Linked DNA regions of Homo sapiens. The protein of the gene in region 3 interacts with the protein of the main gene of each other region in a pairwise test. Each region holds a gene or a part of one and is shown on either strand. Other genes may lie near its edges.

What was found.
Region 1: the proteins of PTK7 (region 3) and DUSP19 interact in a two-hybrid assay, tested with the Homo sapiens proteins (one study listed by BioGRID and IntAct).
Region 2: the proteins of PTK7 (region 3) and MTMR9 interact in a two-hybrid assay, tested with the Homo sapiens proteins (one study listed by BioGRID and IntAct).
Region 4: the proteins of PTK7 (region 3) and PPP3CB interact in a two-hybrid assay, tested with the Homo sapiens proteins (one study listed by BioGRID and IntAct).

What each region holds. Positions count from the first base shown.
Region 1 is NC_000002.12:183,095,747-183,102,412, reverse strand, and holds the end of DUSP19 (dual specificity protein phosphatase 19), read right to left. Parts: 3' UTR 2,405-6,666; downstream 1-2,404.
Region 2 is NC_000008.11:11,322,816-11,328,646, reverse strand, and holds the end of MTMR9 (myotubularin-related protein 9), read right to left. Parts: 3' UTR 501-5,831; downstream 1-500. UniProt on the Homo sapiens protein: Acts as an adapter for myotubularin-related phosphatases. Increases lipid phosphatase MTMR6 catalytic activity, specifically towards phosphatidylinositol 3,5-bisphosphate and MTMR6 binding affinity for phosphorylated phosphatidylinositols.
Region 3 is NC_000006.12:43,078,145-43,087,048, reverse strand, and holds part of PTK7 (inactive tyrosine-protein kinase 7 isoform a precursor), read right to left. Parts: intron 1-8,904. UniProt on the Homo sapiens protein: Inactive tyrosine kinase involved in Wnt signaling pathway. Component of both the non-canonical (also known as the Wnt/planar cell polarity signaling) and the canonical Wnt signaling pathway.
Region 4 is NC_000010.11:73,470,867-73,479,770, forward strand, and holds part of PPP3CB (serine/threonine-protein phosphatase 2B catalytic subunit beta isoform), read right to left. Parts: intron 8,652-8,904; coding exon 8,451-8,651; intron 7,758-8,450; coding exon 7,633-7,757; intron 6,346-7,632; coding exon of another isoform or gene 6,292-6,345; intron 4,165-6,291; coding exon 4,053-4,164; intron 748-4,052; coding exon 602-747; intron 344-601; coding exon 204-343; intron 99-203; coding exon 21-98; intron 1-20. UniProt on the Homo sapiens protein: Calcium-dependent, calmodulin-stimulated protein phosphatase which plays an essential role in the transduction of intracellular Ca(2+)-mediated signals.

The DNA.
Region 1 (6,666 bases), on a different chromosome or scaffold from region 3:
TTCCCTATTTAATAAATGGTGCTGGGAAAACTAGCTAGCCATATGCAGAAAACTGAAACTGGTTCGCTTCCTTACACCTTATACAAAAATTAACTCAAAATGGATTAAAGACTTAAGTGTAAGACCTAAAACCATAAAACCCCTAGAAGAAAACCTAGGCAATACCATTCAGGACATAAGCATGGGCAAAGACTTCATTACTAAACACCAAAAGCAATTGCAACAAAAGCCAAAATTGACAAATGGGATCTAATTAAACTAAAGAGCTTCTGCACAGCAAAAGAAACTACCATGAGAGTGAATGGGCAACCTACAGAATGGGAGAAAATTTTTGCAATCTAGCCATCTGACAAAGGCCTAATAACCAGAATCTACAAGGAACTTAAACAAATATACAAAACAAAAAAAAACCTTCATCAAAAAGTGGGTGAAGGGATATGAACAGACACCTCTCAAAAGAAGACATTTATGCGGCCAACAAACATGAAAAAAAAGCTTGTCATCACTGGTCTTTAGAGAAATGCAAATCAAAACCACGATGAGATACCATCTCACACCAGTTAGAATGGCAATCATTAAAAAGTCAGGAAACAACAGATGCTGCAGAGGATGTGGAGAAATAGGAACACATTTACACTGTTGGTGGGAGTATAAATTAGTTCCACCATTGTGGAAGACAGTGGGGCGATTCCTCAAGGATCTAGAACCAGAAATACCATTTGACCCAGCAGTCACATTACTGGGTATATACCCAAAGGATTATAAATCATTCTACTATAAAGACACATACACATGTATGTTTATTGCAGCACTATTTACAATAGCAGACTTGGAACCAACCCAAATGCCCATCAATGATAGACTGGATAAAGAAAATGTGGCATATATATACCATGGAATACTAGCAGCCATAAAAAAGAATGAGTTCATGTCCTTTGCAGGGACATGGATGAAGCTAGAAACCATCATTCTCAGCAAACTAACACAGAGACAGAAAACCAAACACCAAATGTTCTCACTCATAAGTAGGAGCTGAACACATGGACACAGGGAGGGGATTATCACACACTGGAGCCTGTCGAGGGGTGGGGGGTAAGGGGAGGGATAGCATTAGGAGAAATACCTAACGCATGCGGGGCTTAAAACCTAGATGACAGGTTGAAGGGTGCAGCAAACCACCATGGCACATGTGTACCTATGTAACAAACCCCCAAGTTCTGCACATGTATCCCAGAACTAAAAGTATAATAATAATCAAAAGGACACATTAAAAAAGAAAACTATTGGCCTACATCCCTGATGAACATTGATAAATACCCAAAAGAAAGGAAATTCATATATCAAAGAGATATCTGCACTCCCATGTTTATTGCGGCACTATTCACAATAGCCAAGATTTAGAAGCAACCTAAGTGTCCATCAACAGATGAATGGATAAATAACATGTAGTACATATATATAATGGAGTACTATTCAACCATAAAAAAGAATAAGATCCCGTCCTTTGGAAAAACATGGATAGAACTGGAGGACATTATGTTAAGTCAAATAAGACTGGCACAGATAGACAAACTTCAAATGTTCTCACTCCTTTGTGGGAGCCAAAAATTAAAACAGTTCAACACATGGAGATAGACAGTAGAATGATGGTTACCAGAAGCTGGAAAGAACAGTGGGGGCATGAGGGGAAGAAGTGTGATGGCTAATGGGTATTAAAATATAGCTAGATAGAATAAGATCTAGTATTTGATAGCACAACAGGGTGACTACAGTCAACAATAATTTATTGTACATTTTAAAATAACTATTACAAAGATATAACAGCCTGTTTGCATGAGCGTGGGAGGTGGGTGCCACACTATGTACAAATAATCTCAATGCAGTCATAGTTAGAATGTAGGGTAATTTAATCTGACAGTAACTCAGCATCTTCTCTTACCTTAAATAAGGTATTCTATTGAATTTTCATTGACAATCTGTCCACAGTGATGCCAATTATATGCTCTTACTTTAGCTTTTCTCTTTTGTGTTTTGAGACAGAGTCTCGCTCTGTCACCCAGGCTGGAGTGCAGTGGCGCAATCTCAGTTCACTGCAACCTCTGCCTCCCAGGTTCAAGCGATTCTCCTGCCTCAGCCTCCCAAGCAGCTGGGACTACAGGCGTGTGCCACCACGCCCAGCTAATTTTTTTTGTATTTTTAGTAGAGACAGGGTTTCACCGTATTGGCCAGGCTGCTCTTGAAGTCCTGACCTCGTGATCCTCTTGCCTCGGCCTCCCAAAATGCTGAGATTACAGGCCACCGCACCCAGCCGGCTTTTCATTTCTTGAAGAGACGGGAACAACAAATCTTCATAGATCTAAACTAACTTACATTTTAAAATATAAAATTGTGTGTCTTCCCAACATTTTTTTTTTTTTTTTGAGTCAGAGTCTCACTCTGTCAACTAGAAGTGCAGTGGTGCTATCTCGGCTCACTGCCACCTCCACCTCCCAGGGTCAAGCAATTCTCCTACCTCAGCCTCCTAAGAAGCTGGGATTACAGGCACCCACCACCATGCCCGGGTAATTTTTGTATTTTTAGTGATGGGGTTTTGCCATGTTGGCCAGGCTGGTCTTGAACTCCTGGCCTCAAGTGATCCATCTCCTTGGCCTCCCAAAATGTTGGGATTACAGGCATGAGCCACTGCGCCTGGCCACCAACAGATTTTTTAATTCAGAATTTGACAGCAAATAAGTGTTACATCTTTTAAAACAAATAGCTTCAAAGAAATATATTAATGGGAAAATATTAAACATATCATTTTTATTAAAGTATATCAACACCTAGAAACAATAAAGGGTACATGATGAATATGTATAAAAACAAGTAACTCAAAGCTTTACTTGAAATAGAAAAGTCTAACTATAAGTTATTTTTTGTGTGCATCAATTGAAACAAACCATAAGTTTGTTGATTATAATGTCATTTTATGCATTGCAAGAATATACAACTTCAAAGTCTTCTGGTTTAAATTCCTAAATAACTACAGGGTAACTAAATATGTTCAGGATCCTTCAGGCAGAAAAATCAACTATTTAGAGTCACCTGGAACAAATAAATAAGTAATCATGCCACATTTCTGTTGTTTTTAAATTTATCATGGTTTTGCTTATAAAGGTATTGACTCATTAGGTTAACTCTGTAAGATTATAAGATGATATTCTGATTTATACTTGCTACATTTATGACTACTTGGAGAAACAACACTTGAAGGGGACCTTCTATATACATTTGAACAATCTGAGTTACAAATAATCATGCTGACAAATTCAGGTTTCCCCACTACCACTGAAATTATCAGAGTCTAAGCTGAAAAAAAAAAATCCAAGTATTGTATTCATACATTTTAATCAAGGTTCAATAGGGAAGAAGGGAAGAAAAAGTAAAATTGCAAACAAAATGTTAAATACTGTACTCCACTTCCTCTGAAATATTTGTCTTTTGAATTAGTATACTGGTCTAAATTTTGCCTCCAAAAATCTAAGAAGAATATTGTTTGGGTTTTTCAAAAATCTACATACTTCTTGAGTGTTCTATTCAAATTTTATGTAATCAGAAACCTATTTTAAGGCATAAAATTAGAAAAAAATTTAAAAATTATTAACTTCAATTAACCTCAAATAAATAGAATTGTATTGTATGCTCCACTGCCTTTGTTCTACTCAGCTTTTTCAGTTTGCGGTTTAAAGCCTCCATATTTCTTTTCAATGTTTAAAAAGACATGCTGTTTTCATTTTCCCTTTCCTTTAAAAAATGGCAGAATAATCTATTGAAAAACAAAGAGGCAAAAACTCCTTGAACTATTTTTCCTCTCCTTTAAAACAGACCTATATTTGGTGTATGTATCTTTTAAGTTTGCAGTATGTGAGAAAGAGGACCGTAATCATAAAGTTCTTTTTTTAAAATAACTAGGAATGACAGAGTGATTTATCCCCATGGGAAGTGCAATAAACATATTGTATAGTATATATGACCTTATGCTTTACTTGGTGCCCCTAAAAGACTGAATTATATTCATTGATCTATTTTAATACAGCAAACTACAATTTAACGTTAAAACAAATTTGATGCTCAAAGCACTTCTGTAGAAGATACAAAAGATAAATGTTTGAATCTTACCCAGATCACTATAGGCAACAACTAAGCATATAAACTACAGACATAAATAATACACAATCCAGGCCAGGTGTAGTGGCTAACACCGTAATCCCAGCACTTTGGGAGACCAAGGCGTGTGGATCACTTGCGGTCAGGAGTTCGAGACCAGCCTGACCAACATGGTTGAACCCTGTCTCTACCAAAAAAAAATACAAAATTTGCTGGGCATGGTGGCACATGCCTATAATCCCAGCTACTTGGGAGGCTGATACAGGAGAATCGCTTGAAGCTGGGAGGCAGAGGTTGCAGTGAGCCAAGATCACGCCACTGCACTCCAGCCTGGGCAATAAGAGCAAAACTCTGTCTCAAATAATAATAATATCATTAAGAGCAAAACTCCATCTCAAAAATAATAATAATACATGAGCCATTATGAACAAATTCTATCAAGGCTTCATGTGACATTTAATGGCTGAAAACTAAACAGGATTTAGCAAAATAAAATGTATTTAAATACATCCTTTCTTATGAAAGGAGAAGGCTTATCCAGTGATACTGACCATAGAGAGAACCTATACATCAGTCTCATATTTAAGAGGGTTCTGCCTGCCTTGGTTGGCTTCAAAGAGCTCACTGTACGTTGATTATATTTAGACTGCTTCTTAGCAGAAGCAAAGAGTTTATAACAGTTCATAACATCACAAGTGATGGCATCTTGTCACGGTGTAAGCAATCTCAAAACATAACTTGCATTTATCACTTCTACTTTTTGCTCATGACAGCATATGAAAGCCTGCCTTCTCAAATGCACAGATGTGTTCAATATGCACTTTCCATCTATGCTTGCTCTTTATAATGTATATTTAAGAAGAGCTCAAGACTTTTAAAAATAAAACCTACATGGCAATGATATCTTCTAAGTCATGAAAAACTATGTGGAAACTATCAGGCCAGGCGTGGTGGCTGATGCCTGTAATCCTAGCACTTGGGAGGCTAAGGCGGGAGGATCACTTAAGCCTAGGAGTTTGAGATCAGCCTGGGCAACATGGCAAGACTCCTGTCTCTACAAAAATAAAAATAAAATTAGCCAGATGTGGTGGCGCACAGCTGTAGTCTCAGCTACTCAGGAGACTGAGGTGGGAGGACTGCTTGAGCCCAGGAGGTAGAGGCTGCAGTGCGTTGTGTTCATGCCACTCCACTCTAGCCTAGGTGACAGAGCAAGACCCTGTCTCGAAAAAAAAAAAAAAGAAAAGAAAAAAGAAACTGTCTTAATTAATTAATTTTAAGTATACCATATTCTGAAGAAAAAATCAAAATCTTTAAGCAAATTTATAATGTACAGAGCTCAGTTCTTCAAATACGGAGACATTAAAGAAAAAAGAACCTATTCAAAGGCCAAAGATAAAACTGTAAATGATTGTGGGTCTCCTAAAAGTATATTTAAAGTTTCTTACAAAACCATAACCCTTCTCCCCTAAAAAATATGTTCTCTGGTAGAATACTGAAGTAGAAAACAGACCACTAAACAATGATCTTGCAGTATCAAACATTTTCTCAAAAAATTATGACATAGGATCAAAAAAACAGAATGCTAGGCACCCAAGATAAAAAGCACAAAATGTAAGAGAATAGATCACCTGTTCAAAGAACCAAAGCTCACAATAACGTATGACAGAACACCTATACATTAAAAAAAAAAAGAAAGAAATGCCGATAACAGAATTGAAAAAAACAAAATGAGGTCGGATGCAGTGGCTCACGCCTGTAATCCCAGTATTTAGAGAGGCCAAGGTGGGTGGATCACCTGAGGTCAGGAGTTCGAGACTGCCTGGCCTATGTGGTGAGACTCCATCTCTACTAAAAACACAAAAATTAGCTGGGCATGGTGGCAGGCACCTATAATCCCAGCTATATGGGAGGCTGGGGCAGGAGAATCGCTTGAACCCGGGAGGCAGAGGTTGCAGTGAGCTGAGATTGCGCCATTGCACTCCAGCCTGGGTGACAAGAGCCAAACTCCATCTAAAAAAAGAAAAAAAAAGAAGAAGACAAAATGAAAAGTGTATATTTTTCATAAGAGAACATAAGAATTTTGTGAATATTGTAGCCACTGTGTAAATATTGTATAAACCTTCAGATACTGGTTATCTCTTTTGGGAGATTTAAGGTATTCATTTTTAATCTTAAAAAGATTCTTTAAAAAGAAATATACTTCCCTTTGAAATAGTAAGTTAAGTAGCATTTCAAGTTTTTCTTTCATAAAAACAGTTGCTGGAACAGAAAAATAGGCTTCATTAAATGATTCTCTCCATGCTCTAAATACACATTTTAAATTTAAACCTTTTTCTTCTACAGAAAGCAATGATTACTAACACTTTGTTATTTTCCCTTAGCAATTTAAAAAAGCATTTAATCACACATTATAATAACAAAGAGAAAGTAATGACATTTGAAATTTACTTATACAGTAGGTCAGGACAATCAAATTGACCTCCATTTATGCATAAAAAAGGCAAGAGAAAAAAGGGAGTT
Region 2 (5,831 bases), on a different chromosome or scaffold from region 3:
GGCATTGCCTAAGTCAATGATTACTGTAATAATATGCCAAATAGTGGCTTTTTAATTCCATTTTCTTTCTACATTTAATAGCTGGCATTCTACTCTAAGAAAGAGCTTTCCTTTTACCCTCAATGAGTCATGTGTTTATATTAATACATACTAAATCAATAATATGTAGAATACATATTCCTAATTCTTGGGAGATTCCTGTGAAGTATTTAGAAGACAGGGTCACAATGTCTGCAGCTAACTCGGATGTTTCAGCAAAATAACAGTGTAACAAACACACACACACACACACACACACACACGTGGTATTAAAGCAAATATGGAAAATTTTACCAATCATTCAATATAGGAACAATCTAGGGAGATCAGTGTACTATTTTGCAGCCTTTTTGCAGATCTCAATTTTTTCAAAATGTAAGGTAAAAAATATATAGATTTAATTGAAACACCATCCAAACCTTCACCAATATTTGAAAAAAAAATTCAAATAAGCCCACAGATTTAATTTATTAGCACTTAAATATATTCAGATTTTATTACCATCGTCTATAGAAATTTAACACTAGCCATCTGTGCAACTGTCCTCTGAGGCAGAGGAACACCATACGCAAATATTACACACTAAGAACAGTACCACATTCGACAAGACTCTTTCTTGATTCAGTAAACCAAGCTTGACAAACCGGCCAACCCAAGGTGAATGATTACAGTTATAGGGTACAGGGGAAATTATCACCTAGTGAATATTACAAACAATATTAAAATGTTACACAGACTTACAAAAGTTCTGCTTTTTTTTTTCCCTAAGACTGTATGTATATGTGTGTGTGCGTACACAGGTTCACAATATGGAAACCTGTACCTTACAGCACTCTTGAGGTTTCAGCAAAGCATACATTATAGACATATTTGCCATACAGTGCAATTTTATTGTATAAGCCATGAATAATAGTGCACTTAAATCCAAGAGTCACATTCAAATATTATCAAGAGAACAATCCAAATACCCGGCTATTGAAGAAATACACATTCTTTGTTTTTATAAACTAAGTTCTGCAACTACAACATTTTTTTGTGTAGATGGTATTAGATCAGTAAGGTTTTAAACAATGAGATTTAGGGTGCATTTTGTAGAATAATTCACCTCTCCAAAGATAACGTGCATTTTAAAAGTGAAGCAAATGTCTTGGCCAGACAAACACAGGCAGTGTTGTACAACTCAGTTTTATTACAAATCACAAATATAGTTAATCCTTAGACCTGCAGACGGTTAAAGAGAATGGCTCTAGAAGTCAGTAAACTCTCATCAGAATTACTTTGCAGGACAATGTAGTGTTTACAGTGAGCCTCATTATCTTCCACTAAATTGGGCACAAATTACTGTTCCACAGTGTAGTTCAAGAGCTGGAACATTAAGTTTCTTAAAAAGGATTTAGATAACAGGTTCAGGCATTTTAATATCCAGTCCTAGAATTTCAGAGGGTCTCTTCTGGGACTATTGGTTTAAAGGAAGATGCTGTGGACAGTGGATTATAAAGACCAAATGAAGGTAGAAGTAATTTTATTCAAGAAAATAAAGAAAACTGATACCATAAGAAAGTTATAGTATCAGTATATATTTTATCATCTGAGAATAAATGTAAATGGATAAATGAGTCTTTTTTTTTTTTTTTTTTTGAGATGGAGTCTTGCCCTTTCGCCCAGGCTGGAGTGCAGTGGTGCGATCTCGGCTCACTGCAAGCTCTGCCTCCCGGGTTCACACCATTCTCCTGCCTCAGCCTCCTGAGTAGCTGGGACTACAGGCGCCCGCCACCACACCTGGCTAATTTTTTGTATTTTTAGTAGACATGGGTTTTCACCGTGTTAGCCAGGATGGTCTCGATCTCCTGACCTCATGATCCGCCCGCCTTGGCCTCCCAAAGTGCTGGGATTACAGGCGTAAGCCACCATGCCCAGCCTATAATGTTTTTAAAGATGATGGGTAACATAAAAATACTATGTGGTAATAACTTAGAATACTAGGTCTGGAGGAGGAGAACAGGCCTAGCCCATGTGAAAGAATAAGCAGTAGCTAATCTATGTGGTCTTGAGGTATAGTATAAACCTGGAAAGTTCTCTGAACCTCTTCAGTTCTGAGGGTTGCCCAATTAAAACAACAACAACAACAACAACAACAAAACTTTATCAGATGTACTGAATGACTTCATTCTCTGATAAATTTCAAAGCTTCCAGAACAGAGGATCAACTATTGTAACTATTGCCCATTTCTGGTCCAGGAAATACCTTTCTGATAAAGAGTGCTCATAAAACGCTTGTGTTGTTTTCATTCATTCTATCTAGAAGTGGGCAAATACCAAAACCTTTATCCCAGATTAAGGTCGGATAATAAGTGAACCTGATGACCTACTTTAGAATGACAATTCAAACAGCTATCCCTGAAACCAGACAACTACACGAGTTATGCCTTGAAGCAGATCTTTCAAAGTGCAACGAAACATTACTCCTGTTTTTCACTTGAGGAGACTAAATTATGGTCATATCTTTTCCATGATACTGATTTTTTATTTAACATAAACCAAATACTGACTGAATCAAAGACTAAAACCCCACAAAATTTCATCCTTTAAAACAAAAAGCAATAAAATCCCACCCCTAAATCAGGCCTCAAAGTTCAAAGAAATGTTTAAAAATCCCCCATATGGGATCTGACATGAATGTCTATTATTGTCCCCCCCAAGTCTTCTCAAAAATCACTTTAAAATCTTGCTTTGAGACCCTAAGTTTTCTTGGAAATAAAATACATTTATAGATTGTTTTAAACCTACTGAATTTTACTATTTCTGCTTGCTTTCTTCCCATTTAATAAAATCAAAATAAAAAATTTTGACCAAATAAATATTTATTGAAAGGTCCTGCCACCAAAAAAGCTTCAGGTTTTTAAAAACATATAATCAAACAACAATGTTCTTCTGATTAAAAAAAAAAAAAGTACTTATTTAAATCTGAGGATCCTTATATGTTCAATAGAGGATTGTGGTGATCCTTTGTATTTTAAAAATATTATTTGTGGGGCCTACTTTACGTATCTCCTGTATAAAAACCAGCTTTCACTCCACATGAATAGAGAAGATGCTGAATACGCAGGAATCTGATTATCCCTCACGTGATTATTACCGGCCCCTCTGGGGCAATCTGCTTGCTCACTCATTCTGCCACCATTCTCTTCATTCAAGTGTTTAACAGCACATTTATCAAAGGCAGCTCTCCGATGCAATGTTTAACGAGTGTCTTCTCAGGAGTGTATCCGTGTCATTTATTCTTCTCATCCAGGTAAGCACGAACTTCACAGTACTACTAAAAATCTTCTTCAAATTATATTGATAATGGACTTATTTCTGACCGTTTTTGGATTTGGGAAAACTCTAATATTTGGATTACCAAATAACACTTCTGTAGATGCACTGATACCGAAGTTTATTTTTACAACCTGTAAACAGATCTGAAGTTTGAACAATCCCTAATTATAAATTAATACTAAAATGCAAACTTGCCAAAACAGTATAGATTGTTGTCTCAGTGAGACAGAGAAAACGAAATGCGAATACCGTGTTATGACTGTACTCTGGCTCGCACAGCAAATGTGCATCAGGAAGATGGGTCTACCTTGATGGTACATCATCCCTCCATGACCAGACCTAATACAAACTCCCTCACAAGTTTCCACCCATGGAAGCCCTATGGCCGATCAACAGAAGCAGTGGGAGTCACTTCTGGCTTTTTCTTTACTTAGACACAGGGTCTCGCTCTGTTGCTCAGGCTGGAGTGGACTGATGCGATCATAGCTCACTGCAGCCTCAACCTCCTAGGCTCAAGGGATCCTTCTGCCTCAGCTTTCCTAGTGGCTGGGACTATAGGCACACACCACCACACCAGGCTAATGGGAGTCACTTCTAAAGAAAACTCTCTAGATGGTTTTCCTTATATGCCTGTTAGCTGAGAAGAAAAGCCTCCTTCATATACAATCTTGAGACAAAAAGAGAAGAAAACAAAAAGCTCAGCTGTATTAACAGACATAGCAAGCAATTCTGAGGGAGCACAAAAAAGTGAGGCTGTTTCCTTTTTTTTTTTTTTTTTTTAACAAAACTAAGATGGACATTTCACACAACGCAGAGCTACGAGAACATCTCTTATGCTCCTTGCCATGGGATTTTAATGCCCCAAGGTTCATAACTACAGCAAAGAAAGTAAGTCAAAAATAAACTGAGCTTAAAGAAGGTGGCAGGCCAATTTTCCCAAAAAGACTGTGGACTGTGGGCTGCTGTGTAGCCTTTGCTACAAGGCTGAGGAAGCAGAAGAAAGATGAATTGGGCAATTGGTGATGAAAAGTATTTGCCATTTTCAAAGGCTTCTCAGTGTGGCCATAGATTTTGCTAGTCAATTTTTAAAAAATTATATTTTTAGCTCAACACACAGCTCTAAAGCAGGGTTCAGTGTAGTGTGTTCTCTACCGAAATGGTTATATACAGATGGTATGGAAATGGTTTTAAAGATTACTCATAAACTATCCTTTTAAAGAAAAACTAGACTCGGTCATATTTGTTAAAATGAGCAATGTCACCAAACAGAAATGTAGGTGGGAAATACTGAACCACAAACATTTGGAGTTGCAGGCATAGACTAGCAGAGCATGAATAGTCATCACTGTTTCTATAATACTGAAACACTCAAATCTGTTTCTGAGGTTTAAAACACAGAGCTATATTATATTCATAAACTTCCCCCTCCACTTAAGTTATATTTGCCTAACACATAATGGACAAATCAATAGAGCCAAAGCAAATTTGCAAAAGGCTCAGGTCAACATGAAAATTTTAACCTTAGTATTAGGAAACTCTTAGAATACTTACAAATTAAAAAAACACACAATAAAACACACATACACATATAAACCAGTGCAATAAGAACTTTAGACAAGGGCAGTGCATCTCTGGTTTAAGAAAACCTATTTGTAGCTTGATTATAATAAATTAACTCTATTCTAGATGATGGTTTAATTTTACAAGCAGCATTTGAAACACATTGTATATGTATGCTCAAAACCTGAAAACCAATTCACCAGTAACAATTCTCAATCAGTAACAAATTCCTACTTTAATTGTATATTGCACATACTTTTAGTGTCTACGTTAAAATAAATTTAACTCTTCTTAATGTAAATATCGGAGGACCATACCTGTTGCCCTTGTAGAAATAATTTACCTTGAATAACAGATTTTCCTTTCTTGACAAACAAGAATGAGAATAGATTTCAGCTTCGTTAGTCCAAAACTATTTTAAAGAAAATGGCTATTTTATGTGGCGAAGACACTGGAAATGGATTGTTAAACACAAAATCCTTGGTTTATCCATTGTTGCCATTTTGAAAAACATTTCTATGGTCAGAGTGTTTAAAAGTCTGACCCTTTTTTTAAACCACCAAATAGTCCCTAGAGAGATTAGCTGTCTCCTTGACTGCTCTAGAATGCTGTTTGGAGAGTGGACACAGAGAAAAAGCTTTGGATAAAATGGCATGAAACACAAATGGCATTAAATAGGTCATCTATTTCACGTAAAAATAAAATGACTAGCACCTCCTTCCGGCTCCCAAAGTGACAGGCCCTAACAGGCCACATGAAACATGGTTTATGATAGTAAGTTTCATTATTCATACAGTATTGAGAAATCCATTACATTAGGGGGGTCCCACATCTAAAGCCTTCACTTCAAGGCTACCGTGTAAAAGTGAACTGAAGGGCACAAGGAGAGAACGGCGGACACAGGCCCAAGAAGG
Region 3 (8,904 bases):
TCATCTTGGCCCATCAGCTGGGAAACAAAGAGCCACAGCTGCAAGGCCTTCATGCCAATGGAACAGCCACCTTTGACTGTACAGGTTGTGCACTGCTCAAGATGTCTGACCAAAGAGTCAACACTGAAATACTGCCTGAACCCTGGTGCAGGACTGCATCTACCTGGAGGAAGGGTTTTTTTGTTGTTGTTTTTTTGTTTTTTTGAGATAGGGTCTCGCTCAGGTGCCCAGGCTGGAGTGCAGTGGTGCAATCACATCACAGCTCACCCACTTCAGCTCTGACCTCCCAGGCTCAAGCAATCCTCCTGCCTCAGCCTTTGAGTAGCTGAGACTACAGGCGTGCACCACCACACCCAGCTAGTTTTTTTGTATTTTTTGTAAAGACAGGGTTTCATCTTGTTGCCTAGGCTGGTCTCAAACTCCTGAGCTCAAGTGATCCACTTGCCTCTGCCTCCCAAGTGCTGGGATTACAGGCGTAAGCCACTGCGCCCACGACTGGGAGTACTTATTTGTAATGTGCACAAAGGTACCATACGAGCTAGCTGCTGGGACACCTCAGCAGTCCCAAAGCAGACAAGCGTTCCCCTCATTGCCCCGCCACCACCCCAAGGAGGAGACAAAAAAAAAAAAAAGCCAGAGTGTCTCCTGGAGGGGAGGTTGTACATGATAGTGCCCATGCGGGCCCCCATAACCACCCCCAGGGAGAGCCCACTGCCCTTGGCCACACAGAATCTCAGGAACCTCCCCACAGCACAGACAGAAGTTCCCACAAATTAACAGAGTCGCTGACTGGGGAAACCCCCACAGTCATCCAGTGATTATAAAAACCCCTCCCTTGGGTATCATAAAAGTCTGCCTAGGCTGCCTGAAGCACAGTTCACTACCCACTCCCTGAGAACCTCAGCATGCCAGGAGAGACAGTGGCCCTGAACCAGCACCAACCCACCCCTTGGGAGAATCTGCTATTGAGACAAAGAGAGAGGGAGAATTCCCACCAGGAAAATGTGGCTGTGTGTGGCTCCCACATTTCTGGGCTGCTGTTGGAATACTGAGACCCATTTAGAAAACTTGTGCTTTTGAATGAGGAAGCCATGTTTTTTTTTTTTTTTTTTTTTGAGACAGAGTTTCGCTCTTGTTGCCCAGGCTGGAGTGCAGTGGCGCAATCTCAGCTCACCACAACCTCGGCCTCCCGGGTTCAAGCGATTCTCCTGCCTCAGCCTCCTGAGTAGCTGGGATTACGGGCATGCGCCACCACACCCGGCTAATTTTATATTTTTACTAGAGATGGGGTTTCTGCATTTTGGTCAGGCTGGTCTCGAACTCCCGACCTCAGGTGATCCACATGCCTCAGCCTCCCAAAGTGCTGGGATTACAGGCGTGAGCCACCGCACCCAGCCCAAATGAGAAAACCATTTCTAAGGCTGCTAGTCAAGAGGGACTTTGTTGAGCCTTTGGCAAACCATTCTAGGGTCCGAAGGCTGGAAATAAAGGCTGACACCTCTGGCCAGGCACAGTGGCTTATGCCTGTAATCCCAGCACTTTGGGAGGCTGAGGCAGGTGGATCACGAGGTCAGAAGTTCAAGACCAGCCTGACCAATATGGTGAAACTCCGTCTCTACTGAAAATACAAAAATTAGCCGGGCATGGTGGCGGGCACCTATAATCCCAGCTACTCGGGAGGCTGAGGGAGGAGAATGGCGCGAACCCGGGAGGTGGAGATCGCACTACTGCACTCCAGCCTGGGCGACAGAGAGAAACTCCATCTCAAAAAAGAAAGGCTGACCCCTCAAAAGGAAACGGCTGGCCAGGACAGTCTCTGGGAAGAACCATCAGGGCTAGCCAGAGGGGCTGCTTCCCAGGGGTCACCCATTTCCACAGTTGAAGAGCATTATATCACAACTTCACAGGGGCCAGCAAGGCAGGCAACAGCATCACTTGCATTGTGCTCACGAGGAAACTGAGGCTCAGAAAGGTTAACTAACCAGCTCAGGGTCATGTGGGTATGCAGCAATTGAGCCAGGACCAGAATACAGAAAAACTGGTGTCACAGGTCTATAGATGTCTCTTCTATTACTTCATCACTTGTGGCTGCCATGTGATATTAGAACAGTACCACCCAGGTTTTCAGAATCCTGGTCCGATGACTTTACATCATTCTGAGGCCGTCACTGACTACATCTATTCATCATTCTGAGGCCGTCACTGACTACATCTATTCAGCAATGTAGGGTCTTCTCTCCTCTCTGAAGCCCTCCCACCCCCTATTTGCTCCTACATCTCAGACTTACCATCCCACACATTCTAGAATGTTCTTCTATTCTACTTAGCACTTTACCAAATGGTGTCTTTCATACTTCATCTGATTCACGTTTCTCCATCTTGTCTTCTTCCTGCATTCCATGCCTCCTCAGACAGCTTCACCCATAGAAGACACTGAAGCACTTTGAATGAACTCCCTCCTAAGCCCCCCACTATTAATATCACCCTTTTTCTCAACACCACACCTCCGCTTCAGACTGATAAATTCTCCTTATGGCTACCCAGTGGTTCTCACACTTAAGCGTAGGTAAGAATCTCCAGGAAGCTCTTTATAAATGCAGTTTCCAGGCTGGGCGTGATGGCTTACGCCTGTAATCCCAACACTTTGGCAAGCAGAGGCAGAAGGATAGCTTGAGCCCAGGAGTTCAACACCAGCCTGGGCAACACAGCAAGACCTCGCCTCTATTAAAAATAAAAAATAAATTTAAAAAACTAGCCAGGTATGGTGGCATGCACCTGTGGTCCCAGCTACTTGGGAGGCGGAGGCGGGAGAATCACTTGAGCCCAACAGGACAAGGCTGCAGTGAGCTGTGATTGCACCACTGTACTCCAACCTGGGTGACAGAGTGAGACCCTGTCTCAAAAATAAATAAATAAAAATTAAAATGCAGTTTCCTTTTGAAATCTGGCCTATGTAACTGGATCAGCTATTCAAAAACAGCAACATAATCTAACAAATAAATAAAATGCATTTTCTGGCCTCTCCCTCAATAATTCTGATGGGCAGGTCTGCAGTAAGGCCCAGGAAACTAAACTTTTCATCAATACTTTGGTGACCTGCCCTATACTCTCCACTCTAATTTGAGAAACACATATCTACACCTTCCTAATATGTAACTTACAATCCCTACCCTGCGACTCGGGACTTTGTCTTCAGAAATTACATACACACCTAAACCTGTGAGTGCATATCCCGCTTATCAAGGCTTACACTTCTAACAGGGGCTTGGGATCTGCAGGACACCTGGTGGATGACGTTCTAGTCACCTGAGCGTTCACTCAACACATACCCCAGTTAATGCACACAGCAGATGAGAGTTTAGCAATGTAAAACCAAGTTGCGAGAGGGGAAAGGCGCCTGTGTGTGTGTCAGCCCTTCGAACCAAGCTTCCTCCCTGCCCCACTGCTGTCTGTGTAACATTATTGGGAGGGAAACGGCCTAAATGCAGAGAAGAAAAGAGGATGGAAAAAGTGACATACTACAGAGGGCTTCCTCAAACCGCTGATTAGCTGTGGCATCTCTCAGGCCAGCTCCACCAAAGCGCCAGGGGGCTCAGCAGTGAACTCAAGAGAATTCCAACATAGGACTCTAACCAGCTACAATGGCAGGACTTTCACACCCTCAGAAGAAGGACCAGGCAGATGGGGGCCAGAGCAGGAATCAGGAGAAGGGCAGGCGGCAGCTCCAGGGCAAGGTGAGGGCCAGTGCCAGCAACTGTGGCCCCAAGCCTGTAACCCCACCACGTGGCTCTGGCCAGGGGTAGTGCCCAGGCACAGCAGCAGAGAGGCATCTACTGAGGTTAGGGAGAGCAGGAGGTTGAGGGACACAGGCCAAGGACACCCAACCTTGTTTAATGACCCTTTCTTCCATCAGGAAAACACCAAAGACTGAATCCTTGGCCCCAAACTGCTCTTGGCTCCAACACTAGAGTCTGAACCGGCCAACCTCTATCCCAGACGAGTCTCACAGAAGCTGCATTGGCTTAAACACAGACTCACACAAACCCCCTCACTCCAGAATATGAAATGCTCCAAAGACTAACAACACTACAGCTGTCAAAGCCCAGCGGAGACATGCCTCCCTTTATGAGCCAAATGTATTCCTGAAAAGTTGTCTGTCGACCAAATTTCTGCCTAACAAATCCAGTTTCTCCACTGGCTTTCGTTATAAAATCAGCCGTATTCTCCTCTAGGAAAAGCTGAGGTTCTGAGAGGAGCTAAACATCAGGCTGAATATTGCAGACTTCCTAGAGTCACACATTTAATGGAGAAATTTCTTGACAAAATCTAATTCAATTTAAACCCAAAGGAGGTAATATTAAAGCGTACACATCACCCCAAGGAGTGTTCGCATAAAGTGAGTTATTTAAAGCAAATCTTCAAATACTGTGCAGCATCTCAGCTCCCAATTTATACTGTTGCAACAGGAAAGCTCTGTGCCTTGAGATTCTGTATAAAGAAGGATGCCTAGGCCAGGACTTCTGGAACTCTGGGGTACAGAGTCACCTGAGCATCTTGTTAAAATGCAGATTGCAGCAGGGCACGGTGGCTCACGCCTGTAATCCCAGCACTTTGGGAGGCTGAGGTGGGCGGATCATGAAGTCAGGAGTTCGAGACCAGCCTGACCAACATGGTGAAACCCTGTCTCTACTAAAAATACAAAAAAATTAGCCTGGCGTGGTGGTGCGCGCCTGTAATCCCAGCTGCTCAGGAGGCTGAGGCAGGAGAATCGCTTGAACCCAGGAGGTGGAGGTTGCAGTGAGCCAAGATCGTGCCACTGCACTTCAGCCTGGGCGACAGAGTGAGACTCCATCTCAAAAAGAATAAATAAATAAATTGCAGATTGCGATTCTGATTCATGCTCCCAGGAATGCTGATGCCACGTGGCCCTGGGTCTTTCTTCAAGTAGCACAGTTATAGATACTCTAGGCCCCTACCCAGTTCTCTGAGGAAGCAACTTTAGCACCAGTTTTTAAGTTGCAGTCAGCTTCATACGTAGCGGTGCTTACCCACGCACAGAACTTGGAGAAAGCTAGAAGACCCACCACATCAAAACTGAGAAAAACCACCACCAAAACCAGCCAGCCCAGGATCAGGGAAGGAAGGTCTGATCCTTAATTTGGTCACCGTAGAGCAGGCGCAAGGAGGAACAGGCAACCCCAACTCAAAGAAGCTGGGGAGGGTGCAAAAGACTCCCCATGCCTAGGATGCAAGGGGATATTTAACTCCACCCTTGATCATTCTGCCCTGCACCCAAATGGTTCATTCACTTTTTAAATAAACCTATATGAGGACCTGTTATATCGGCTGGGTGCAGTGGCTCACGCCTGTAATCCCAGCACTTTGGGAGGCTGAAGTGGGCAGATCACCTGAGGTCAGGAGTTCGAGACCAGCCTGGCCAACATGGGGAAACCCCGTCTCTATTAAAAATACAAAAATTAGCTGGGTGCAGTGGCACACACCTGTAAACCCAGGTACTCAGGAGGCTGAGGTAGGAGAATCACTTGAACCTGGGAGGTAGAGGTTGCAGTGAACCAAGATCGTGCCAATGCCTCCAGCCTGGGAGACACAGGCAGACTCCATTTCAAAAAAAACAAAAACAAACAAACAACAAACAAAAAAACCACCTACATAAGAACCCATTATAAATAAGTACTGTACTAAACTCTATGGGAGAGCCCCTCAGTAAATTAAAACAAAACCCAATAGGGGCAAAAATATGGATGGTGTCGCAAGAATGACAGTCCAGAAGTTCTACAGTGTCTACCTTCTGGCAGGAGAGATAGGACAGCTTCAGGGAAGAAGAGGCGGTGGGGCTGGGCAACAGAGAGACAGGAGAAGGCAATGTACAACCGGGGACTGGCCCGAAGGAAAGAAAGGTGGGAGAAAACCAGATATGTGTTAGGAGATGGCAAATATTCCAGCTGGACTGGAATGGAGGGTCCCAGTAGGTAAAATGTCTATTGTTGGGAATGACTGTAAAGCTGAAGGAATCTTTGAAGCACACCACAGAGGGAAGACCAAGAAAGGGCTGTGTGTGTGTGTGTGTGTGTGTATTTTTTTTTTTTGAGACGGAGTCTCGTTCCGTCGCCCAGGCTGGAGTGCAGCGGCGCGATCTCGGCTCACTGCAACCTCCACCTCCCGGGTTCAAGTGATTCTCCTGCCTCAGCCTCCTGAGTAGATGGGATTAGAGGTGTGTGCCACCACACCCAGCTAATTTTTGTATTCTTAGTAGAGACGGGGCTTCACCATGTTGTCCAGGCTGGTCTTGAACTCCTGACCTCAGGTGATCCGCCTGCCTTGGCCTCCCAAAGTGCTGGGATTACAGATGTGAGCCACTGCACCCGGCCTACTTCATTATACTTAATCCTCAGCACAACTCTAGGATGTCCCTTTATAGAAGAGGCTGAGAAGCTAAGAGGTTCATCCAGGGCCACAGGGCCTGCCAATGAGTCTGAGTTGCTGCTTTGCCAGATATACTCCTTATCCCTGGGCTCCACATCCCTCAACAGAGGATCAAAAACACTGGGGGAAGATAAAAATTAAAAACAATACAACAATAAAAAAGAATACAAATTAAAGAATACAACAGTTATTTACATAGCATTTCCATTGTAATAGGTATTACAAGTAATTTACAGATTTTTTTGTTTTTTTTGAGACAGAGTCTCGCTCTGACACCCAGGCTGGAGTGCAGTGGTGCAATCTCGGCTCACTGCAAGCTCTGCCTCCCGGGTTCACGCCATTCTCCTGCCTCAGCCTCCCAAGTAGCTGGGACTACAGGCGCCTGCCACCACGCCTGGCTAATTTTTTGTATTTTTAGTAGAGATGGGGTTTCACCATGTTAGCCAGGATGGTCTCGCTCTCCTAACCTCATGATCCGCCCACCTCAGCCTCCCAAAGTGCTGGGATTACAGGCGTGAGCCACTGCATCCTGCCCTTTTTTTTTTTTTTTTTTTTGAACTCTGTCACCCAGACCGAAGTGCAGTGACACAATCATGGCTTACTGTAGCCTCAACCTGCTGGGCTCAGGCAATACTCCCACCTCAGTCTCCTGGGCAGCTGGGACCACAGGCACGTGCCACCATGCCTGGCAATTTTTTTTTTTTTTTTGTACAGGTGGAGGTCTCATTGTGTTGCCAAGGCTGGTCTTGAGCCCCTGGGCTCAAGCGATCCTCCTCCCTCTGCCTCCCAAAGTGGTGGGATAACAGGCGTAAACCTGGCCCTTAGAGATGATTTAAAGTATACAGGAGAAGCTGGGCATAGTGGATCATGCCTGTAATCCTCATACTTTAGAGCACTGAGGCAGGAAGACTGCTTGAGCCCAGGAATTTGAGGCTTCAGTGAGCCAAGATTGTGCCACTGCACTCTAGCCTGGGTGATAGAGGAGACCCTGTCTCATAACAAAACAAAACAAAAGTATACAGGGAAGTTGTGTGTACGTTATATGTAAATACGACACCATTTTATATAAGAGACTTGAGCACCCTTGGATTTTTTTTTTTTTTTGAGACGGAGTCTCGCTCTGTCACCCAAGCTGGAGTGCAGTGGCACGATCTCGGCACGATCTCGCCCAAGCTGGAGTGCAGTGGCACGATCACTGCAAGCTCCACCTCCCGGGTTCAGGCCATTCTCCTGTCTCAGCCTCCCGAGTAGCTGGGACTACGGGCACCCGCCACCACGCCTGGCTAATTTTTTGTATTTTTAGTAGAGACAGGGTTTCACCGTGTTAGCCAGGATGGTCTCAATCTCCTGACCTCATGATCCGCCCGCCTCGGCCTCCCAAAGTGCTGGGATTACAGGCGTGAGCCACCAGGCCTGGCCGCACCCTTGGATTTTGTTATTCTCAGGGAGTCCTATTCCAATTCCCTGCAGATGCCAAGGAAGGACCATACTTTATCTCCATTGCTTGAGCTCTGTCCACCACTCAATGCTGCTCTGAACACCAGGAGTTTGAGTATATCATTTGACAAGTGACAAGAAGAGCACCCTTGCCCTGCCACCATACTTCCCAACAGCTGAGAAAAGCCATCACTAATAAAAGCAACTCCTAGGCCTGAATTACAGGCTGCAGAGCCTTGAGGAATCTGCAGACAGCCTATCCCAGAACATGACGACTCAATTTCCCCAAAGAAACAAGAGCCCGGAGGAAAGAAACCAGGGAGGGGGATGGGAATTGGAATGAGAAGTGACCACAGCTGACTGTACAAGAGGTTGGGGTTAAGAATCCATAGTTTCAAACATCAAGCCTCCTCCTCCTCCACCATATTTATTACAACAGCATCTCAAAGTTTGGAAAGTAACTCTGCCATTTATGGCATAATTACCCAGACTTTAAAATGGTCTAATCCACAAACCTAGCCAGCCTAGGTTCCTTACTCCAGCCTTATTAACAGTGGGATCTCACTACAACTCCAGTTAATTACACAATTAAACAATGAGATGCAAACATCTACTGTGATCTATTAAAAAACCGTTGCCCCTGAAGTCATGCGTCTGGGGGTGGGTTGAGTCCCAGGATTTCACTAGAAGACAGCAGGCGCCTCGGCCTCCACTGAAATTGTTTACAGCACATGGACAGGTTCCACAACAAGGCACATTTGGTGGAATTGATTTAAGGCTCTCATTAAAATGTTCCTTTGTTGAGCACAAGACATCCCCCCACCCCTGAGGAGACTACAGACCTCCTGTCCTAAGCCCTCAGCCTGCCCTAACTTCCCCCAACAGGATCCCCCACACACACGCGCGCACACACACTAAACACCAACCAGTCACCAGATTAAGTCAATTAACATCAGAGTCATCTTCTCATGGAAGGAATTTAGGAATTCAGCATTTGTTGAGCAAGAGCCCCATCTTCACCAG
Region 4 (8,904 bases), on a different chromosome or scaffold from region 3:
CAGGGAAACAGAATTCTTACCCTGCATCTTGAGCTTCATGAGCTCTAATAATCGATAACAAATTATTGTTTTGCAAAAATTCACACACTGCTGGATAGCTGTGGGGGAAAAAGAGTAAATTAAGTAAAATAATGGCTTTTCTGTATGAAGCATATGCTATGTTAACAACTAAAATGTGATTAATCTTGGATATTTTTCCTTACTTATAAAAATAAGAACATCCTCGAACTGTATTGTGACTAAAATGTTCCTGTGATTTTTCATTTCCAAAATCTTCAGAAGGATCGGACCATAACAAGTCACACATTGGTCCAAATGCAGGTGGCTCTTTGAATCTATCTAACTGTGAAAGAAAGAAAAGAAAGAACAGAAGTAACTCATCAAAAAGTAAGGATAAAATGTGCATAGGAAAACGATACCAACTTTGAATACAGTTCATACTATATTATTGTGAATAAACAGAAGTTATTTCCTTAAGATATCAGTATACTAATTTTTACTATTACCTAATCTTGGCAGTGAAGTGAAGTTTGAAACTTCTGCTCTACTCAACAATGTACTATAAATAGAAATCAATCTCGGAAGTAAAATATATACTTACTCTCCTAATATCATCCAGTGTGTGTATTTCTGGTGAAAGTCCACCATGAACACAAAGAAACTGTTGGTTTAAAAGTGCAGCAAGAGGCAAACTATCAAAAGCTTCCATACAAGCTTCATAGACTCTTTCCGAATACTTAATTTTACCTAGAAAAACAAAAAACTAATTGAAAATTACATTACTGGTGGTGGTGTGACCATTTTAAAAACATATATATTAGATTTTTATTTCTTGTTCTCTCCCCTCCTTTATATCTTATAGCTATTTATAATGAAATTGAGATAGTTACAGTTTCAACTGTAGTAATAGCCCAGACAGACAGACAGACAGATGGCAAGAAAATTATAGACAGTAAACAGCAAAGTGGTGGCCAGGGCTTCAGAGTGAGTGAAGGGGTGACTATAAAAAGGTAGCAAGAGAGAACTTATGGCATGATAAAACTTTTCTGTATCATGATAGTGGTAGTGGGCAACTCTATGCAGTGTCAAAAGTCACAGAAGTAAATACCACAGAGAATAAATCTTACTGCACACAATTTTTTTAAGGAAAGCATCTTCCCCTATAAGAATCAACAAAAATATGCAAAGTTATCTGTCTTATGAAGACAAAATATTTGCTCTCTCTAAAATTATTCTCGATGATGTTATGTCTTATGAAGCAAAATATTTGCTCTCTAAAATTATTTTGGATGACAGAAAAGTCATCACGTATTGTTAAAAATAAGTCAGTCAAATCTCTAAAAACAGGCCAGGCACGGTGGCTCACGCCTGTAATCCCAGCACTTTGACAGGCCAAAGCAGGCAGATCGCTTGAGGCCAGGAGTTTGAGACCAGTCTGGCCAACATGGCAGAACACTGTCTCTACTAAAAATACAAAAATTAGCCAGGCATGCTGGTGTGCACCTGTAATCCCAGAGACTCAATGGGTGAGGAACAAGAATCACTTGAACCCAGGAGGTGGAGGCTGCAGTGGGCCGAGATCGTGCCACTTGCACTCCAGCCTGGGCGACAGAGCAAGACTCTGTCTCAAAAAAAAAAAAAAAAGAAAGAAATCTCTTAAAAACAGCTCAACCCTTCACCTTTATCGGCCAAATAAGGCAAAATTAGAACTGTACTTGAGGTTAAAATCATTTTAATACTTGCTTTATTTTATTCTAAGAGTCAATGACTACTTTATTCTTATTACAGGCAAGATGACTACATCATCACAACAAAATTCAAGGTTCATCCATTTTTTCTGAAAAATAAAAGATAATAGCATGCTCATGTCAGAAAAGCTGAGGGGTTCCTCTTGCCTACAATGAATACTTTAAAATGGGCAGTGAAGCAGGAAGCCAATATAGAAACACAAGAAAGACAAAACTCTACCAAATCAAACTATCATTTACTTTTAGAGAGATATCATGCACTTTCATTTGCTCCTTTACAACTTTAAATTCCTATTTTGGTTTTGATGAGATTTTGGTAGGTGGTTTGTTATTTATCTAGGCAAAGAAAAAGAACTTAGTTCCTATTTCCTGTTTTAATACTGTAATATTCAAATATTAAAAAAACTATATATATATCCAGCAACCAGAGATTCTACACTGGCAGTCTGCTAACGACTCTGTTTTCTAGCACTGTGGTTTAATAAAAATTCTAATTTGACTGCTTTTAGGTCAAGCATGCACTTTCCAGGTCTTATCTTACTCATTTAGGTTAACTGCCTGATCCTTGAAGTTATAAGAGTATGCCACTTCTGCCACTACCCATCACTGTATTTTTCTCCTGTTGCTGCAAGTCTCTACTTAGTATGACCTTTATTGGATCATGTTTTGAGTCTCAAAACGTTGAAATTATTTCTGCTTTTAGAATTTAACTCTACTTAATACAGTCATAAATATTAACTTAAAAAGCACAAAGGCAGGCCAGATGCGGTGGTTCACACCTGTAATCCCAGCACTTTGGGAGGACGAGGCAGGTGGATTACTTGAGGTCAGGAGTTAAGAGACCAGCCTGGCCAACATGGTGAAACACCGCCTCTACCAAAAATACAAAAATTAGCAGGACGTGGTGGCGCATGCCTGTAATTTCAGCTACTTGGGAGGCTAAGGCAGGAGAATACTTGAACCCGGGAGGAGGTTGCTGTGAGCCGAGATTGTACCACTGCACTCCAGCCAGGGCGACAGAGCGAGACTGTCTCAAAAAAAAAATAAAAATAACAAAAATAATAAAAAAGCACAAAGGTTTGAGGTGTGAAAAAGGCCTAATCTTGTTCTGTAACATATGGTTACTTACAGGTATTAGATTACCATTGCTATAATAATTTGAGAGAGAAAAGGGATAAACATTGCAGGTTAAGAATTTCACCAACTGTACCTGACTAGTCTTAAAACAATGATATTTAAAAAAACAAAAAAATTTTAAGAAGAATTTCAATCATTAATAGCATGATTGAAATGATCTGCAATGGTAACAGGATAAACAATTTGTTAGGATTCCTCACAGGAATGCCTCAAGATTGAAGGACAAAAATCTCCAATGCAAAATAACATTTTTTTCTTTTGGTTTTTATTTTTTCCTGTTAGAAAAAATATATACATTTTTTTTTCCTGAGACAGAGTTTCGCTCTTGTTGCCCAGGCTGGAGTACAATGGCGCGATCTCGGCTCACTGCAACCTCCGCCTCCCAGGTTCAAGTGATTCTCCTGCCTCAGCCTCCTGAGTACCTGGGATTACAGGCACATGTCACCACGCCTGGCTAATTTTTGTATTTTTAGGAGATGGGGTTTTGCCGTGTTGGCCAGGCTGGTCTTGAACTCCTGACCTCAGGTGATCCACCCGCCTCGGCCTCCCAAAGTGCTGGGATTACAAGCGTGAGCTACCGTGCCTGGCTTAGAAAAATTAATTGTAACATTAAAACTTATATATAAAACTCTAAGTATGTTTGTAAAAGTTAAACATAATAAGAAATTCTGAAATGAAAAAAAATTTTTTTTTTTGAGACAGGGTCTGACTCTATTGCCCAGGCAATTGTCCGTGCAGTGGCATGATCTCAGCTCACTATGACCTCCGATTCCCAGGCTCAAGCGATCCTCCCACCTCAGCCTCCTGAGCAGCTGGGACTACAAGAGTGTGCCGCCACACCCAGCTAATTTTTTTTTTTTGTATTTTTGGTGGAGATGGGGTTTCACCATGTTGGCCAGGCTGGTCTCCAACTCCTGAGCTCAGGCAATCCCCCTGCCTGGGCCTCCCAAAGTGCTGGGATTACAGGCGTGAACCACCATGCCCCACCAAAAACTTCTTAATACCATTAAACACCAGAGAGTGCTCGACAACTTTCCTCAAAGCTTTATGTGTGGACATGAAATCTGTCCTTACATGTTGCACTGTAAAGTCTTCAAAACTCTTACTACCCACTTAAGTCCAAAAGAATACTGAGGAAGTGAAAACATTTCTTCTGGCAGTACTCACATTCCTGCTTAAAGGTAAAATATTCAGTAAGGTGTCTGCATTCATGGTTGCCTCTCAGAAGAAATAATGTGCTTGGGTATAGAATCTTCAGAACCCATAAATATAAGACACACTGCAAAAGAAAATTTTTCTAGTGAATTTATCTTGTACTTTTGTTTAATGAAGCTGCTTGATCTTTGCTCCTTTTCCTCTACTACCCTTACCATCCTCTATTATCTTTCTTTGTCCCTTACTAAAATATAAGCACCACAAAATCACAGATTTTGTCATCTTATTCACTTTTGATTCTCCACTCCCAGAAGAGTACCTAGCAAATAGGAGAAGAGCAATAAATATTTGTTGAATGAATGAGTCAAACAATCTATTTAATTACTTTGGATTTACAGACTGCCCAATATAAAAACAATTAGCACACTGGTCTACAGATGCGTATTAGTAAATAATACTGTCAAAATAACAGCAGCTAACATTTATTAAGTACTTACAATATGTGAAGCACTATATAATTCCCCTAATTTATTCCTCAAACAACACTATGAAGTATGTAATATCATCTTTATTTTACAAATGAGAAACTGAAGCAAAGATCTCAAGTAACTTGTCCAAAACCACAAAACTTCTAAGTGATGGAGATAGGATTCTGATCCTCTGATCTTAAGCATTATGCCATGCTGCCCATGAAGGGAAGGTCCATGTTTTATGTTTGTTTCATTGATTATGAATATTGCCTTACATATGGTAAGTGCTTATTATCTGAACTAATTCAATGCAAATGTAATTTTTCAAATAAAAATATTATTAAACATTATAGCAGATGCTATTCTCTAAATAGATTTAACATAAGAAAGAGACTCACATTTTACTTATTTGCTTAAAAAAGGAAGAAATATTTGATATGGAAATAAGCATGGTTTATATAATCATATGCAAAAAGAAAAAACAAACTTTTTTATTTTTAGAGACAAGGTCTCACTGTCACCCAGGTTGGAGTGCAATGGCACAATTACTGCTCACTGCAGCCTCGACCTTCTGGGCTCAAGAAATCCTCCTACCTCAGTCTCTTGAGCAGCTGGGACTACAGGCACATGCCACCAGGCCCAGCTAAGTTTTTTTTTTTTTTTTTGTGGAGACAGGGTTTCACCATGTTTCCCTGGCTGGTCTCGAACTCCCAGGTTCAAGCAATCTGCCTGACTTGGCCAACCTGTGCTGCGATTACAGGTGTGAGCCACCACACCCAACAAAACTTTATTGTTAATAAATTAAGGTATATCTAAACATGTAACTATTCATATCCTTCATTTTATTCAAAAGGGAAAAAAGTAATAAAATCAGGGAAATAATCTGTTCTCGATGCTTATTTTGATTCTTTGTTATTTTCCTTTTATAACAACAAAATGTATTAAAGGAGTCAGCTACATCCAGGCGCAGTGGCTCACGCCTGTAATCCCAGCACTTCGGGAGGCCGAGGCAGGCAGATCACCTGAGGCCAGGAGTTCGAGATCAGCTTGACCAACATGGCGAAACTCCATCTCTATTAAAAATACAAAAACTAGCCGGGAGTGGTGGTGGGCACCTGTAATCCCAACTACTTGGGAGGCTGAGGCAGGAGAATCTCTTGAACCTGGGAGGCAGAGGTTGCAGTGAGCCGAGATCACGCCACTACACTCCAGCCTGGGCGACAGAGTGAGAGTCCATCTCAATTAAAAAAAAAAAAAAAAAGAGTCAGCTGCAAAACAATCTTACACAAGGACATGCACACCAACTTAGTTACCAAATAAGCTTCATAAAACTGTTTATTTTATTGTTTTGGTCAAATGCCTGAAATTTTTTTGTTAAAATGGGCCATTTTCTGATTTGCCTGAAGCCCTGTGACAATTTGGGAAAAGTTGACGAGGCTAATAATCAACTATCAGCAGGAGGAAGAAGAACTCAAAATAGCAAAATTCCTAAGGGAAGCAGGACAGACAGAGTCTAGAACTTCCTTCCACTCTGAGAATCCTAGCACACCTCAGAAAAAAAGGTATATTGGAAACACTGGAGAAGGAGATATAAACAACAGTAACCAACATAAATTCACCAGGTAAGGTTTCAGTATCTACTAGGGAAGGTGGTTAAAAGCATATGCTGGGAGTCACATTGCCTGGCTATGCTGTTTACTAATAATACCTTGGGCAAGTTACTTAACCTCTCTAAGCCTCAGGTTCCTCATCTATAAAATGAATAAAACAACAGTACTTACCTCATTAATATTATTGTGAGGATTAATCGATATGTCTTCAGTGCCTAGAACATGCTTAGAACATATTAAATGTGCAACACAGGTATCTATTGGTAGAAATTTGACCCCACAATTCTACCTCTAGGAATTTGTCCTACAAAAATAATCAGGCAAGTATGTAAAGATGTATGAATAATATGACTCATTAAAGCATCATTTGTAAAGAAAAAAACTGGGAACATCTTCAGTGTCTAACACAAGGAATTAATTAATTATGGTTTGTTTATTAGATGGAAAACAATGTAGATATTAAAATGATGCTACGAGTTTATATTTACTGACTTGGAAGGATATTTGGTGTAGGCATGTATGAAAAAGCAAGTTACAGACAATATTATAATATGATCCCCTTTTCATTAAAAAAAGAAAAAATGTATATATTGGAAAATACATATTGTTCTACATTTGCTGCATTTTGTTTATATAATTTAAAAAGATGGCAGGGCAATGTGGCTCACATCTGTAATCTCAACACTTTGGGAGTCCAAGGCAGGAGGATCACTTGAGCCCAGGAGTTCAAGACCAGCCTGGGCAACATAGGAAACTCCATTGCTACAAAAAAATTAAAAATTAGTCTAGGCATGGTGGTGTGTACCTGTGGTCCCAGCTATTTGAGAGACTGGGACAGAAGGATCCCTTAAGCTCAAGAGGTCAAGGCTACATTGAGCCATGCTGGTGCCACTGTACTCCAGCATGGGCCACAGAGTAAGACCCTGTCTCAAAAAAAAAGAAAAAGAAAAGAGAAAAAGGAAGAAAAGGAACCATCTACTGTTAAGTGATAATCAAAAGGTCATTTTAATGCCTCAAGTTTTTAAAAACAAATTAATACTTTCCAAATACACAAAGATTCCATAGGATATACTTGAGTCTTAATAGCTACACAAGGAGAAACAGAAGCACTAGGGCTCAAGCAATAAAAAAATCACAATATACTTTATTTAATCAGACAGAATTCAAGTAATCTTTTTTCACATGGTTTAATGCCTTTAGGGGCAAGAGAGATAAATAGCACTAAATTTTTAAGGCCACTAGTTAACAGGGCAATAAAGACCCCTCAGTCAGCTCATAAATTCCACTGGGAAAAAAATGGCAATTATAATTATATAAACAGAGTTATACAAAGAAATTTATTTGAATTGTTTGAAAGACAGAACAGGAATAAATAGTAGCTTTTCATAAAAACTTCAGAATATGCAGAGTTATTAAAAAAACCTAACACAGGTACTTGTGAAAACTAGGATTAAGTGAAAGCATCTGTGTTAACACTTAACAGCAAATCAAATGACAGTTTATGATTATTACCTCTATACTAAAATAACCTCTGTCCACATAATCGCCAAGAAAAAGGTATCGTGTATTAGCAGGTGATCCTCCTACTTCAAAAAGTTTCATCAGATCAAAAAATTGGCCATGGATGTCACCACACACTGAAACAAGAAGATTATTAGATAAGGGAAAAAAATCTCTAAAACAACAAATTTTACTTAAGTTAAAACGTATTTTACATAAGACATAGTACAAATGCTATCAAGAAATGTCTGAGAAGGAAGTAGTCTATGAACAGTCATGATTAGGATGATGTGTAACCAAGTGTTCATGTGCTCAAGATCTAGAAAAAGATGTAACAGAAATAACGAAATTTGTGGTCAGTGACAAACTGAAATCTACATTTATAAAGATCGTCTCTAGGACTCCAAGGATGTGTTTTAAGTTTCAAGATGACAAAATTACAATGGTGGCAGTTAAAATATCCATTCTAACTCAATACTTTCTGTTGCTCTCTAAATGGTCACTTTTGGTATCTGATATGACATCAAGGTATTTGACCCTAACAATTGAAAGCAAAGTAAGTATTGATCAAATTGAAGTATGGTCAACACAATTGATGAAACCTTCACAAAAGCATATTAGACTAACTTCTACACTCAGATTATTTAGAATCATGTCTATTCACTGAAAACAGGCAATCATTTTTAAGTATGGAAAATAATTTGAAATTCAAGATAATGTCCAAGTAATATTGATTTAGCATACAGTATCATTGAAAACAGTAAGTTGTAAATCCAGGCAACTAAATAATGACATAATAAAAATAATACCCAAAACATGAATAAGCTTACCTGTGATTGGAGCTTCTACTTCTATCATGGTTTTCTCTCTCCGAAGGATGGCAGCACCCTCATTGATAATTCTAAGCGCAATTTCTTCATCTACTCGACCTTCTTTCACCAAGTGGTTCTTCAGAACATCAACCCTGGGTATCCCATCCAAATCAAATACTTCTTCAGATGTCAAGCGATGTGTTGGGGGGAAAGGGACAGCTGCAAATGTTTTTAATTAATAAAAGATAAGTCACCAAAAATACATTAACTTAAAAACTAATAATTGGATCTAGATAAGACTAAAAACTGTAAAGCAGGGATTTTTCTTTCTTCTTCATTTATTGGGTAGAAGTGTTTTTCTAAATAGTAAGCAAATTATACCACTTTTAAAGCTATTTATACTAACATGTTCTTTGTTGAGAATTATTAGAGAAATGAGTTGTCTCACAAAATTAAGTTCTTTCAGGATAAC